Linked DNA regions of Homo sapiens: region 2 is linked to region 1. A link means that fine-mapping ties the variant in region 1 to the expression of a gene that starts in the linked region. Tissue or cell type: whole blood. Region 1 holds a variant in brackets; the other region holds the start of a gene. All regions are shown on one strand. Distances are between the middles of the regions.

Region 1 (8,000 bases):
GAGCCTGGTTTGTTTTCCCAGTTTCATTGATGATATTCCCCAGTTCTATTCTAACAGTCATTTCAACCAACTCTTATTTTTGGTTAACAAATAAAAGGCTAGTTTACAAATCTGGCTCACAGCTTCCAATGGAACTTTTCCACAGCTTTCTGTAGCTGCTTTATCCCTTTAACACACCAAAAGAAAAACAAAATTCTGCATGAAAAGTTTCAAATAAAAATTCTTAAAATCTCTGGTAGAGTTAAAACCTCACAGAAATTAGTACTCCCATTTTTCTCACCGATGTGGCAGACCCTGTATTGGCTTACTCAGAAACTATTCCAACCTCTTCCTTCTGGGCCTTTCTTGCCAGCAGAGGCTACCAAAACCCAAGCTGCTTTGCAATGAGGGTTCCAGACGTGACTTATGCTCCATTTGCTCAAGACTTGAATTTGGAGCTGAGTAAGTCTGGAGCTGGCAGTATGATGCAGCACAGCCTTCTGTGTTGGGCCTAAAGGCTTAGCAATGCCGTTCTTTACCCCTTCTCTCTCATTCCTCAAAGGATTTTGACTGAAAATGTAAATACTAATTTTATACACGGAATGAAGGAATAACTAAGAAAAGAGAAGGTCTAGCAAAAAAAAAAAAAAAAAAAACCTAATCTAGGAAATTTGAATACTATTTCTGATCTTTCATCTATTCTCTAAACAGTCTCTGCGGTACATAGGCAGAGTATAAAACTGAAATGATGAATTATATGTTGATGACTCCTCAATTTATATCTCCAGCCCTAACTTCCTCCTAAGCCCCCTATAGGGGCCAAAGGAACTTCCCCTTTGTCCTCTGAAAGTTCTCTGAAAAAAAATCAACTGACAAAGGCAGATTAATAGGACAAAAAGCATACAAATTCATTAGCATTCACAGGGGAAGATCATAGAGTGATACCCAATATCCCAGTGGGATACAGATGCTTCTATACCCTACTTCTTAGGGAAAATGGAGATAGATGTAGATGATTTTAGGGGGGTAGTAAATGATTTTTAGGGGGATTCAGTGGGCTTGAAGAACATATAATGGCCTGGAACATACTCTGTTGGGCCTATAGAGCAGACAGTGGTTTGTGACAAAAGTCTCTCCAGGTACATTGACAGACTTCAGCCTTTCTTCCTGTAATGTAAGATCCGTTATTGAAAACTCAGAGAAAGAACCACAGGTAATTGTTTTCTTCTTTATTGCGTCCAGACTTTAGGCAGATAAGGGAACTTCAGAGAACAATTTCATTACATTCTTTGGGAGACAATTGAGAGACAGGAGTCAGGGAAGGTCTAAGAGACCTTGAGGCTGCTTCTTCAGTTCAGCATATCAAAGCATCGTATTTTGTGGCATTGGTTTCTGAGCTGCAACACCTCAAATTAACATATCCAAGATTATCCTGTCAAATCCAGGCATGGTGTTATGCACCTGTAATCCCTGCTACTTGGGAGGCTCAGGCAAGAGAATTGCTTGAATCCAGAAGTTCAAGGCCAGCCTGGGCAACATAGTGAGGCCCTGTCTCTCAATAATTTAAAAAAAAAAAAAAGATTATCCTATCATTGTCTAATAGCATCTCAAACTTAACATACCCAAAAAGGAAAAGGAGCTTGATATTTGCTGTCAAACCTGGCTCCAATGTTCTCAAACTCATTGAAACATACATCCTCTGTAACTCCTCTTTTCCTCCCTCTCCTGTGGTCATGTAAATTCAGCAGTGGACCCTGTTGGTTCTCCCTCTGATAGATCCTAGATCTTGCCTTCTCTTTTACTTCTTTAGATAAGCCATTTTCCTCCTAGGCTGTGTCAATTGTCTCCTAACTGATCATCCCTACTCTCCCCTTTCTCTTCCCTTTCCCTGTAATCCATTTTCCACATAGCAGCCAGAGTGAGCTTAAAACTATAAATTAGATATCATTCTGATTTAAACTCTCTAAGAGCTTTCATTGTGCTAAGAATAAAAGCCAAACTTCCTATAGGGCCTGCCTCCCTCCCTAACACTGCCTCTTTCCAGTCTCAGCTGCAGAAACATGGACTGTCTTCCTGTCCTCAAACAGGGCAAGCCTATTCCATCTCAGGGCCTTTGCGCTTGTGTTTCCTTTGCCTGGAGCCCTCTTCCCTCAAATCTTCCCCTGCAGGCTCCTTACCATCCATGTTTTATTTCAAAAATTGATTCATGGGATCCTTCCATGGCCACCCAATTTGAATTAGCACATCTGCCCCACTCCACTTATGATCAAATTACCTCTTATCTTATTCATGACCCTCATCACTACCTAAAATGATGTTATAATTGTTATTCATTATCTCACCTGTTAACAGTGATGTCTTTTTTCTCTCCCAAGATCTTCTCCTTGACAACTCCACAGCACCTCCAGAGAGGTTTGCTCGGTTGGAGTGTTACCAACAAAGTCGTTCCCCCACCAAAAATGGGGTATTTCCCTGTTCGATCCCATGAAGCCAATAGGCAAAACCAAAAGTGAATGTCTAGCAGTGCAGGCTTTATTTGATGGCCATAGGATTGAGAAGCAGAAGCTTGGTTCAAAAATCAAATTCTCAGCCCATGAAAGCCAGGAAGCTGGAAATACAGGGCATCTTTAATGAAGGGGTTGAGCATTAAAAGAAAGGGGAGGAATCTTCATGTCTTTTCTGAGAGTTGGTAGAGAACTCCTAGAAACTGGAGTGCTGCCTGCCTTTTTGTCTTTTTATGGTTGCTTCCAGTCATTCTCATGGTGTTTGTCACCTGTCATGGTGCTGGTTGCAGTGTTACATAGCAGAGAGATCAGACTATAATGAAGTTAGAGGTTCTTCAGAGATCAAGTGGGCTGTCATCTTGGATCCCACCAGTCTTAGCCATTTTGGTCAGGAGAGAGAACTTTTTATCTCAGGCATTTTCTTTCCTAAAGATAAGCAGAGTTAAGGCAGGGTAGAAATGCACCTAGGTCAGGTAGGCATCACACTGGGTAACAAGAGGAATTACCATCTTCTCAAAGAAAGAACTAGAAACCAGTACAGACAGCTAAGAAAGTGGTTTCCCAACTTCTCTACTCATGTCCCTCAAGAAGAAATCTGGAAAATAATGTATCCCTTATCTACTTTTGTTTAACTTGATAAGATCAGAAGACCTGGGAAAATTAAAATATTGACATCATTATATTTGTTCCAACACAATAATATTTGACAAAAAGGTATTACGTGCTTTAAAAAATAATTTTTCTCTAAACCTTGAAGCTGCAAATATAGCTTATTTAGGAAACCATGTGTTATATCGTTTAATTGGCAAAGACAAACTTCATTATTATACTAGTCAGCCCAATCA[C/T]TTACTTTCTGTCAGGAAAATCAGCCTTCATCTTTCAATTTATACTTTTCTGTTTAATACACAGCCCCTTCACAACCCTTTTCCTTCTTAAATTGAATTCTAGGATATGCCAGTAGATAAGATACAAAGCTCTGTCCTGCATTTGTTGCCTAAATGAAATTCATGCCGTGATCTTCAACATTTTTTTACCGATTCTCTCATTCACTCTTAAGGCACTCACCTTCAGGAGCAATGCATTTTGTTGTTAATAGGTGACAGAAAAAGTGAGGTTGTTAGATATAAATTATCAAGTCCCATTCCTCTCAACATGATATATTTGAATATAGACTTTCCCGTCCTATTTTTAATACCATACTTAACCTTACGATCTGATGTGATATATGATACAATGTGATATGATGGCAGAGAAAGACATGAAGTCCTACCTCAGGCTTGCGGTGCCTCATTTAATTATTGCTTTTTTTGATACCCCTGAGAATTTTTCACCCTCAGAGCAAGGCACTACAGTAATATATAGGATAGAGGAAAGTTTTGCCTTTATTCTGAAAAGTATTAGGGGTGTGATTGTGAAGGATGAGGGTAGGATCGTAGAAGTAGAGTAACAAAACCTCACCTATAGGTGCATTCTGAGACACGTGTGTTTTAGGCAAGAGTATGTATGAATGCTAAAGAACTGGAAATTCACTGCCTTGAAAAGATCAGTTTCCTTATTCCCCTCGGAAAGTCTCCACATACCCCAAGGGGTGTGAGTACCACAGCTTAATGACAGCTGGGCCAAGAAGCCTGGTTCCCTTTGGCCCTTGCTGCTGTTAGGGCCATGTGGTATTGCTCCTGACATGTGCAAGCCAACAAGAGTCTGTCCCCTTCTTCACTGCTCATCAATCTGGGAAAATACTACTCCCAAATCCTAAAAGTCCCCACAGTCTGCAATCCCTCTTCAAGTTCCGGTGCACAGAACTGAATGTATATCTAACAGCAAGAACATGCTTGTAAGAGCTCTGCCTGTGCAAAAAGTCTGGAATTTGCCTCTATTCACACAGAACCCAGGACTTCACATGTTAGAGTTACTGTGCTTTTGGGGTTATGCAAGCTCACACACACCCTGCTATTTTACCCAGGGCATCCCTGCAAGCCAAGACAGCCATAATGGCCGGGCATGGTGGCTCACGCCTGTAATCCCAGCACTTTGGGAGGCCGAGGCGGGCGGATCACGAGGTCAGGAGATCGAGACCATCCTGGCTAACATGGTGAAACGCCGTCTCTACTAAAAATACAAAACATTAGCCAGGCGTGGTGGCGGGCGCCTGTAGTCCCAGCTGCTCGGGAGGCTGAGGCAGGAGAATGGCGTGAACCCGGGAGGCGGAGCTTGCAGTGAGCCGAAATGGCGCCACTGCACTCCAGCCTGGGCGACAGAGCGAGACTCTGTCTCAAAAAAAAAAAAAATAAGACAGCAATAATGAAATGAGTTTAGAATGGCAACCATGCGGTCTTTAAGGTACTGCCAACCCCCCTCAATCTGCATTGTGATATGAAGAGTGGAAGATGTCTCTTTTTCTCCATTGCTCAACCAAGTCTTATTTTCTTTCTCAGGATAAGTGTTAATTCTTTCAGTGTAGTAAACCCACGTTGTTATAACAAGCCAGTGTCTATTTTTTTCTATGTGATCTATAGACATCGCTACCTCAGAATCACCTGGGATGCTTATCAGACCTACTGAATTCAAATTTATGGGATGGGGCCTGAGAATCTACATTTTCTACCGGTACTAGGTCATTCTTTCTCTTTGATGAAATTTCATATGTAAATAAGTACATATGAATATATATGCAAGTTTTAACAAATAATTATACAACAAACACCTATATGTCCACCACTCAGCTAAAAATGTGAAACACTGCCAAGGTATTTGAATCCTCCCATGTGTACTTCCTTCTTAATCACATCTCTCTTTCCCTCTCCCCTTCCTTCTGAGGTTACCGGTAGCCTTGTTTTTATTGCTCAGTTGATTTAAAAAAAAAACTACCATATATACTTGTATCCCTAAAATCTTATAGTCACTTCTGAAATCTATAAAAATGTAATTATACATTATGTATTCTTCTGTGACTTGTTTTAATCATCAGTAGGATGGTTGCAAGATTCATCCTTGTTGATATATGATATCTGTGGTTCATCTATTTTCACTGCTATATAGTATTCCATTTTTTGGAGAGGTACAGTTTAGTTTTCTACTGTTGAGAAAAGTTTGGGTTGTTTCTAGTTTAGTTTTGTGATTATGACATAAAGCTGCGATTCCTGTATGACTCTCCTACCTCTTGGTGCTGTGGAAATTCCATTGAGAAACTGGTAGTTGTGAAATGATGTCTCCTGTGGTTTTAATTTGCATCTTCCTGCTTATTAAGGATGATATGCATCTATTCATATTTTTGTTCATTTGCTTCGTGTTAATTTCATGTTGATATATTTTGTACATTTTTTAGGTAATGCATCTTTTTCATATTGATACTAATCTTCTGCTTATATGTTTTAAATATCTCCTCTCTAGGGCTTGCCTTTTGACTTTATGGAATATTTTCATGAAAAGTTCCTCATTTTAATATAATTGAATTAATCTTTATGATTTTTCCATCTTGTTTTATAAATACTACCCTATCCCAGGGTCATAAAGATAATTTATGTTTTCTTCTTAATCTTTTAAGGTTTTGCCTTTCAGTTGAATTCTTAATCCATTTTGACTTGGAGTGTGTGTGTGTGTGTGTGTGTGTGTGTGTGAGATAAAGGCCCAAGTTAATTATTTTCCCACATGGATAAGTAGTTGTTCCAGTTCTATTTATGAAAGAGTTCATCCTTTCCCTGCTGATCTGCCATACTACCCCTGTCATGGATCATGTTTCTCTATACATAAGGATCTGCTTCTGATATATTGGACTACCCTCATGCCAGTTCCACAGTCCTAATTACTATAACTTCATACTAAGTCTTTATATTTGGTAGGACAAGAATTGCTCACCTTCTTCTTCACAAGTGCGTTGCCTGTTTCTTATTCTTTGTTCTTCTATTATGGTTTCGATTCAGTTTGTCCAATTCCACCAAAAAAAGTTGAAATTTTGTTTGGAATTGCATAGAATCTATAGATAAATTTGAGGGTAACTGACATCCTTACAGTATTGTTTTCTAATATGTGAATATGGTGTGTCTCTGTTTACATCCCCTTTAATGTCTTTTAATCAATATTTTTTTTTTTTTTTGAGATGGAGTCATGCTCTGTCGCCCAGGTTGGAGTGCAATGGCATGATCTCAGCTCACTGCAACCTCTGCCTCCCAGGTTCAAGTGATTCTCCTGCCTCAGCCTCCCAAATAGCTGGGATTACAGGCGCCCGCCACCATACCCAGCTAATTCTTGTATTTTTAGTACAGTTGGTGTTTCACCATGTTGGACTGGTCTCAAGCTCCTGACCTCAGGTGATCTGCCCGCCTCGGCCTCCCAAAGTGCTGGGATTACAGGTGTGAGCCACCATGCCCGACCTAATGTCCTTTAATCAAATTTTATAATTTCCTCCCTAAATAACTTGTGTATCTTTTGTTATATGAATTGCTAGGTACCTTACATTTTAGAGAACTGTATATTTGTATGTAATCTCTGTATGTTGCTAATGTATAGAAATTCAAATGATGTAAATTTTAATTATATATTACTTTACCATGCTAATTCTCTCACTAGTTTTATAACTGTTACTTTTTTTTTTAAGTTTGCTATGTGGTTAATTGTATCATCTATGAAAACTGGCAGTTTTGTTCCTTCTTTCCAGTTCCACTAGTTTTTATGTTTTGTTCTTATTTACACTAATTCTATTGAATACAAACGATGGTCATAGCATCCTTTTCTTATTCTTGACTTTGAAGAAAAGTGTTGAGTACTTTGCTGCTGAACATGATGTTTGCAGATTAGAAACAGAATAGACTCTCTCCAGCTTACATGACACTTTGCTCTTTTTTAGCTTATACCTTTGTTACACTCCATACTGCACTTTCAATAATTTTTAAAGCTATACTTTCTGGTTCACTAATCCTTGTCTGGGTACATCTAATCTGCTATTTAACCTGTCCATCAAGTTTCTAGTTTTATTTGTTACTTAATTTAATTCTAGAAATTTAGTCTGGTCATTTTATAGTTCCTTGATTATTAGTAATATTTTGGATCCCCTCCTTCATTTCCTAAGAATATTACATGATATATTTATACTCCACCTCAGGGTGTTTGTTAGCTATGGCCCACAGGCCAAGGCCAGCCCAACCAAATCCAATCCAACCTGTTTTTCAAACAATGTTTTACTGAAACCCAGCCAAAGCTGTCTGTTTAATTTTATCTTGGTAGGTTCACTCTGTAATGGCAGAATTTAGTAGTAGTGATGGCAGCGGCAGGCTATCTGGAGCATCCGCTGCCATCATGCCGGCTGCAGCAGAAAGACATGAGTGGTGGCAGCAGGAGCAGCTGCACAAGCAGCAGTGGCAGCGGTGGGTCCCCTGTACCCCATGTCCCTGAGGCAGCCAACTGCATGACCCGCACCCTTGCATGGCTGGGCAGGACGTGCTCCCAGGCCCAGAGCCTCTGTCGCTGCCTCAACCTCACTCCCTGCCGCATCCCAGGAGTCCATGAGCACCCTGCTGAAGG
Region 2 (8,133 bases), 980 kb after region 1:
ATCAGCACAGCTAATGTCAGAGGCCCAGCTTATTCTTTTCATCTGGACTACTAAAAACAAGAACTATTATCTACCCCACAAAAATCCTGTGAAAGTTAATTAGGTAGTTAAGTTAATCTTCATTAGGCAAGATCATGGAATTTGGGAGGAAAAGAGGAAGGAAGCCTGCAGATCTTGCATAAGCAGGAGAGGCTTTCTACACTCCTCCGGTCTTATAAGAAACAGTATGTCCTATTTTTGACCTAACAATTTTTTTTCTTTGTAGGTATCCATGCCTTCTAAGTGCTAGTAATAAAGAATTAATTCACATATTAAACTTGACATGGTTAATTTCATTGCCCCTTTATGTTAGCTTTCTTTCTGAACTTTGAGTGCATCTACAAACTTATTAAATGATCTAGACAAGCCAGAAAAAGGCTTCTCATTTCTTCAGTGGGGTGGGAAGTGATTATTTTGTCATAGTATGGTTCAGAATGACATATTCAAATACAATTTTAAAAATCTACTTCACTATGTATATGTATCATCAATAAGAAAAATTTGGCCTGGTGTTGTTAAGATATAAAAGTACCTGACAGTGTTAGAATTGCAGACTGTTGTCATCTCATGTGCTACAAAGCTTTAATTCAATTATTTGGATTCTGTATGAGAAAAACTTTCACTGCAGGTGTAACATTTTCGTCACAGCATAAAATAATCTCCACTTAAAGGAGATACCCAATTTCTCTACTTATAAAGCATTCAACTGTTAATAAAAAATCAGTGCCAAAACCAATCTGTGTAGTTACCACCAAACTTGTTAGAATAAACAACTTTTCTTGCATGAATTCTCTGAGAAAAACTTTATTGAAAAATACCCCCTCCGGCCGGGCACGGTAGCTTGCGCCTGTAATCCCAGCACTTTGGGAGGCCGAGGCGGGCGGATCACCTGAGGTCAGGAGTTCAAGACCTGCCTGACCAACATGGAGAAACCCCGTCTCTACTAAAAATACAAAATTAGCTGGGCGTGGTGGCTCATGCCTGTAATCCCAGCTACTCGGCAGGCTGAGGCAAGAGAATGGTTTGAACCTGGGAGGCGGAGGTTGGGGTGAGCCAAGATGACGCCATTGCACTCCAGCCTGGGCAACAAGAGTGAAACTCTGTCTCAAAAAAAAAAAAAAAAAAAGAAAGAAAAATATCCCAAGATAGGAAAAATCACTTCTCTTGTAATTAAGGTCCATTATGGAGGATTTCTCTTTCAAATATTTATTTTCAAGAAAATTGTAGCAATTAGGTGCACATCAAAACTAATACCCTTTATGGGCCTCTATTTTGCAGATGGTTCATTTCAAAGCATCAAGTTCTACATACATACATACACACACACACACACACACACACACACACACACACACAACCTAATCAGGCGGTTTCCTGGGCAGCTACAGAAGACTCAAATGATCTCATGGACTTCACTAATGTTTCTAGTTGGTGCCAAATGTTTCAGAAATTTTGAGGTAGTCCACTTACCTAAGGTGATACTAAACTTCCAGAAAGCAAGAATTTCCGTAATAAGTGAAAGAGGATGAATGTACAAAAATAATACTAGCTTTCAATTAACATATGAATATTGTTCTGTATGAAGAGGCAGTTTCCTACCCAAGTGAAAAAAGAATAAAGCTGTTGCCTCCTTAACATTAAACATCCCTTCATCACTAAGAGGAGACTCTAAGGCCTAGCAAAAGATTTGAGCCTAACATTTTGGGTTTTTTTTTTTTTTTTGAGACGGAGTCTTGCTCTGTCGCCCAGGCTGGAGTGCAGTGGCGTGATCTCGGCTCACTGCAAGCTCCGCCTCCCGGGTTCACGCCATTCTCCTGCCTCGGCCTCCCAAGTAGCTGGGACTACAGGCGCCCGCCACTACGCCCGGCTAATTTTTTTGTATTTTTAGTAGAGACGGGGTTTCACCATGTTAGCCAGGATGGTCTCGATCTCCTGACTTCGTGATGCATCCGCCTCAGCGTCCCAAAGTGCTGGGACTACAGGCGTGAGCCACCGCGCCCGGCCGGGATTTTTTGGTAAGCAGCAGCGTAAAAATCACTCTCAAGGTTTGAGATTGGGATCCAGCATAACTGGTGACTTGACCTTGGGCAAGTCACTTAATTCCTTTTAGTCTCAGTTTCCCTGATTGTAAATGAAGTCAACACCACCTGGTAAAGGTATTACAGGACTGGTGTGAGGATGAGATGATACATGTGAACATATTATTAAATATGTAAACTATAAGGCAATAGTAAGCAAATGCTAGTTACTATTCTATGTAATACAGGCCTAACCTTTCCTGCCTATGTCCTGATCTGTAAAAAGAAGACAGGTTGAGATCTGAATGTCTATCCACTCACTTATCAGCTGCGTGAACTTTAGCAAGTCATTTCCTTTCTGGGCCTGTTTCCTAAGAAGGTTATTTTTTAAGATCAAATGATATCGTGTTATGCAAATGCTGTCCAGACACATATTAAGAACTTAACACATGATGGCTCTTATTATTCTCTGGGGAGTAGGGTGGTAAAGAGCAAATGAAATTAAACCTAGTTAAGAGAATTTGTATATGCACACAAAACTCTACAGACATCCAAGGTACCGTTATTTGCACTGTAAACTGCCAAAACATGCAGGAAACGAGAAATCAAATGGCGCCTCAGTGATTCGCACTAGAGAGGGGGAGAAGGCAGAGCTTCCGAGAATCAACTGTTTTCCCCCTTATGGCCTCCAGCCTAGATTAGACCATTTATTCAACTTCCCAGCCCCCAATATCCCTGGACATTTATTTACTGTACCTTTTTCACTGAGAGCCTTTCCACTCCCCTCCCCTTCTAGTAGTCGTGAACTTCAGACCCTCGCTTCGACTCCCACTGCCATAACTGTTTTTAACCAAGCTTCCCTGAATCCTCCCCTCCGCCTAAGGAGGAAGTGCAGCTAGACGCACCGCACGGCATCCTAGGAAATGTGGTCTCTCAGACTCTTTGCCTTGGGCTGCAGAGTGGGGAAGACGACGAAGGAGAGCCCAGTAAAACTACAACTACCGGCAGGCAACGCGAGTCACCATCTTTCTTTCGCCCCTTTTCCTGTTGCCGTCCTCTTCCTCCTCTCCTCTAGCGCTGAACCGCTTGGCCTCACGGTACTTGTAGTTCCTTCTGGACTCAAGATCCTAGGGCTTGATGGCCAGCACAGAGGCTGGAAGACTCTAATTCCCAGAGGGCAGAGCGGAAGCTGCGCCTGCGCACACTCAATGAGGGCGTGTATGTCTGTGTCTGAGGGAGAGAGAGCGAGAGTGAGTGAGTGTGAGTGCGGGGTGGGGTGGTGGCCGTTACGTTCGGGGCAACGGCTACGGCAGTGGAGAAGTAAGAAGAGAAACAACGTCCGGCGCTTCCGCCTTCGCTTAGGAGGAGGAAGAGCTGGTAGGGAAAGGAAAGTGCTTCGCCCTGGGCCTGGACTGGACCGAGTCGGGTTGGTGGGGGTCTGGGCTATGAGCTTTTGAGGGTCGCCTGGGACGCGGAGCGAGACACGAGAGCCAGGAGCTATGTCTCAGCCGCCGCCGCCGCCGCCTCCGTTGCCGCCGCCACCTCCTCCCCCTGAGGCTCCACAGACTCCGTCGTCCTTGGCGTCGGCGGCTGCTTCGGGGGGGCTTTTGAAGCGGAGAGACCGGAGAATCCTTTCCGGGAGCTGCCCGGATCCGAAGTGTCAGGCGCGTCTATTTTTCCCGGCCTCCGGTTCTGTCAGCATCGAGTGTACCGAGTGCGGCCAGCGGCACGAGCAGCAACAGCTGCTGGGGGTTGAGGAGGTGACCGACCCGGACGTAGTGCTACACAACCTGCTGCGGAACGCGCTGCTCGGGGTTACGGGGGCACCCAAGAAGAACACGGAACTGGTAAAGGTGATGGGCCTTTCCAACTATCACTGCAAATTGTTGTCGCCCATATTAGCTCGCTATGGAATGGACAAACAGACAGGCCGGGCCAAGCTTCTCCGGGACATGAACCAGGGCGAACTGTTCGATTGCGCCTTACTGGGTGACCGCGCCTTCCTCATAGAACCAGAGCATGTTAACACTGTGGGCTATGGCAAGGACCGCTCCGGAAGCCTCCTGTATTTGCATGACACTCTGGAGGACATTAAGCGGGCCAATAAAAGCCAGGAATGTCTCATTCCAGTGCATGTGGACGGGGATGGACACTGCTTGGTGCATGCTGTGTCTCGGGCTCTAGTAGGCCGAGAGCTCTTCTGGCATGCCTTAAGAGAGAATCTTAAACAGCACTTTCAGCAGCACCTGGCCCGATATCAAGCTCTGTTCCATGACTTCATTGATGCTGCTGAGTGGGAGGACATTATCAATGAGTGTGACCCTCTGTTTGTACCACCTGAGGGTGTTCCCTTGGGCCTGAGGAATATCCACATATTTGGTCTTGCCAATGTGCTACATCGTCCTATTATTCTGTTAGATTCCCTCAGTGGCATGAGAAGCTCTGGTGATTATTCAGCCACCTTTCTACCTGGGCTCATCCCTGCAGAGAAGTGCACTGGGAAAGATGGTCATTTGAACAAACCAATCTGTATTGCATGGAGCAGCTCCGGTAGAAACCATTATATCCCCTTGGTAGGCATAAAAGGGGCTGCTTTGCCCAAACTGCCTATGAATTTGCTTCCTAAAGCATGGGGTGTGCCTCAGGACCTTATTAAAAAGTACATAAAACTTGAAGAGGATGGTGGTTGTGTTATTGGAGGTGACAGAAGTTTGCAAGATAAATACTTACTTAGGCTTGTTGCTGCTATGGAAGAAGTCTTTATGGACAAACATGGTATCCATCCTAGTTTGGTTGCTGATGTCCATCAGTATTTCTACAGAAGGACTGGAGTGATAGGAGTTCAGCCTGAGGAAGTCACAGCAGCTGCTAAAAAAGCAGTAATGGATAATCGCCTTCACAAATGTTTGCTCTGTGGTGCCCTTTCTGAACTTCATGTTCCTCCAGAGTGGTTGGCTCCTGGAGGGAAATTGTATAACCTGGCAAAAAGTACTCATGGACAGCTGAGGACTGACAAAAATTACAGCTTTCCCTTGAACAATTTGGTTTGCTCATATGATTCAGTGAAAGATGTTCTGGTACCAGACTATGGAATGAGTAACCTAACAGCTTGTAATTGGTGCCATGGCACATCTGTGCGAAAGGTCAGAGGAGATGGGTCTATTGTGTATTTGGATGGAGACAGAACTAATTCTAGGTCCACTGGTGGCAAATGTGGTTGTGGATTCAAACACTTTTGGGATGGTAAGGAGTATGACAATCTACCAGAAGCTTTCCCTATTACTTTAGAATGGGGTGGAAGAGTGGTCAGAGAAACAGTATATTGGTTCCAGTATGAAAGTGATTCATCTTTGAATAGTAATGTTTACGATGTTGCAATGAAACTTGTTACCAAGCACTTTCCAGGTGAATTTGGGAGTGAAATCCTAGTTCAGAAAGTTGTCCACACTATATTGCATCAGACTGCCAAAAAGAATCCCGATGATTATACTCCTGTAAATATAGATGGTGCTCACGCCCAAAGAGTTGGAGATGTTCAAGGACAAGAATCAGAGTCTCAGCTCCCAACTAAAATTATTCTTACTGGACAGAAAACAAAAACTTTGCACAAGGAGGAGTTAAACATGAGTAAAACTGAAAGAACTATTCAACAGAATATTACGGAACAGGCTTCTGTAATGCAGAAACGGAAAACAGAGAAGTTAAAACAAGAACAAAAAGGGCAACCCAGGACTGTTTCTCCCAGTACCATTCGTGATGGTCCATCCTCTGCACCTGCTACACCTACCAAGGCTCCCTATTCACCGACAACTTCTAAGGAGAAGAAGATCCGAATCACAACTAATGATGGACGACAGTCCATGGTTACCCTTAAGTCTTCAACAACCTTTTTTGAACTTCAGGAAAGTATAGCCAGAGAATTCAACATTCCTCCATATTTACAGTGTATTCGATACGGGTTTCCTCCTAAAGAGTTAATGCCACCACAGGCAGGAATGGAAAAGGAACCAGTTCCTTTACAGCATGGCGACAGAATTACAATAGAAATTCTAAAAAGTAAAGCTGAAGGTGGTCAGTCTGCTGCAGCACACTCAGCCCACACTGTGAAACAAGAAGATATTGCTGTTACTGGTAAACTGTCATCTAAGGAACTTCAGGAGCAAGCTGAAAAAGAAATGTACTCCTTGTGTCTTTTAGCAACATTAATGGGTAAGATGAATTTAATTCTGATGGTATATCTTAATTGTAAATATAATACACTGAGTTTTCCTGTTATCTTTGGGGGAAAAGAAATCTGTAGCCATTGTAAGTTTTTAATTATATATTTCAGGAGAGAATTATTTTTAGTATTTTGAACAGTTGATAGATGTTAATAGGATTATTGAGTAACTATTAGGAAAATAGAAAGTTAAGGTAGTCCCTCAATAATAGTCAACAGATTATTTAAATATATCTTATTCTTGCAATTGCTTTTTAAAAAACAGACTTGTATTTATTTAAAGCGTTTTAAATTTTTTGGTAGGCTCTATTGATCCTGCCTACCTTGCCCCTTTTTCATTTATTTTTAATTTTTATTTTCCTGTATGTCATGTGATTTCAGCACTTCCTGTTTGATGAATTGCAGTTTCTGGTGTTTATATTCTCACTGCACTCCCACCTAGTAGTCTCTTACATTTCATTTTCTTCCTTTCCCAGTTCATCACATTTTTCTTTCTCATACACTAGGATTTGTATGTAAGTACACTAGGATTTGTATTTAAGTAATTTCACTACTCAAGTCTTTGCCATCAATTATAATGAACTGTTATAAGTTGTAGTTCATGAGAAACATAAACAGAGATGGATGGTAATGGTGTAAAGAAGTATTTGTTTTTAATCAGCATAAATTAAAGAAAAATATATTAACCAAATGTGTAATTTAAAGCTTTAGATGATTTGGGATACTGTTCAATGGTGTACTTTTTACAGTGTCTATATTTGCTTAGTCTTTGTTTTGAAATAACTTAGTATGCTTTACTAAGTCTTAAAGTATGAAGTAAAATTTAAATGTGTTAGTTACTGGAAGGGTTTTATTTTTGCTGAGATTAAAGCTTTCAACGAGAAAAGTCATCTGGGTTTTGATTCTGTTTTCTGATAGTACTATATGGCAGTGATTTGGGCCTTAATCTATCAAAATGAATACTACTCCTGGCTTATCTGGGGGAGTAGTAAATAGGGGATCTAAAAACCCTGCACAAATTTAGAACCCGGAATTGTTGATTTTAGTTTGCCAGACATAGTAATTGAATTGGGGAGTATGTCAGGAACTGTCCTACGCACTTTATATATTTCTTTTTTTTTTTTCTTTTTTTTTTGAGATGGAGTCTTGCTCTGTCTCCAGGCTGGAGTGCAGTGGCGCCATCTCGGCTCACTGCAAACTCCACCTCCCGGGTTCAAGCAATTCTCCTGCCTCAGCCTCCCAAGTAGCTGGGACTACAGGCCCACGCCTCCATGCCCAGCTAATTTTTGTATTTTTAGTAGAGACGGGGTTTCAACTTGTTGACCAGGATGGTCCTGATCTCCTGACCTTGTGATCAAGGTCACTTAAATACGAATGCTAGTGTACTTAAATACAAATCCTAGGTGGCCTGTGACTGTAATCCCAGATACTCTGGAGGCTGAGGCAGGAGAATCGCTTCAACCCCGGAGTTGGAGGTTGCGGTGAGCCTAGATCGCGCCACGGCACTCCAGCCTGGCGACAGAGCGAGACTCTGTCTCAAAAAATAAATAAATAAATGAATAAGTAAATAAATAAAAGACCTTCAATCTCCCAGGTCAAAAACAGGAAAGAGAAGATCTTCCTCAATAGAAGATGGACTCTTGAGAATGTGGCTCTTACCTTTATCCTTGTATGCACAGAACCTGATAATAGTGCTCAGCAGGTAGTATGCACTCTGAAATGTTTTTTAATTGAATTAAATAGATGACATTAACACAGCTAAAGAAAGGCTGTATCTGCAGAAATGGAATGGATGGTCAGTCAGCACTGAACATTGAAAAAAGTGAAAAGCAGAATTCGGCAATGTTCATATACTGC

The links. PIP is the estimated chance that this variant, and not a neighbour inherited with it, causes the effect.
Region 2: it holds the start of VCPIP1, and the variant in region 1 is fine-mapped to the expression of VCPIP1 in whole blood (TOPMed, PIP above 0.99).

Annotation. Positions count from the first base shown.
Region 1 is chr8:67,640,894-67,648,893 of GRCh38, reverse strand. All of the region lies in intron 1 of CPA6 (carboxypeptidase A6), which reads left to right. Among named protein-coding and RNA genes, the nearest start is that of CPA6, 100 kb to the left of the region's middle. The variant C/T (reference allele first, on the strand shown) is at 3,329.
Region 2 is chr8:66,662,382-66,670,514 of GRCh38, reverse strand. VCPIP1 (valosin containing protein interacting protein 1) reads left to right here and starts at 3,284. Exons shown (of 3, transcript NM_025054.5): 1 at 3,284-6,266. The coding sequence starts at 3,557. It overlaps C8orf44-SGK3 (C8orf44-SGK3 readthrough), which reads right to left and starts at 2,919. Exons shown (of 19, transcript NM_001204173.2): 1 at 2,814-2,919. C8orf44 (chromosome 8 putative open reading frame 44) reads right to left here and starts at 2,919. Exons shown (of 2, transcript NR_161217.1): 1 at 2,814-2,919. RefSeq lists enhancers at 2,687-3,196, 3,567-4,086, 4,337-4,396.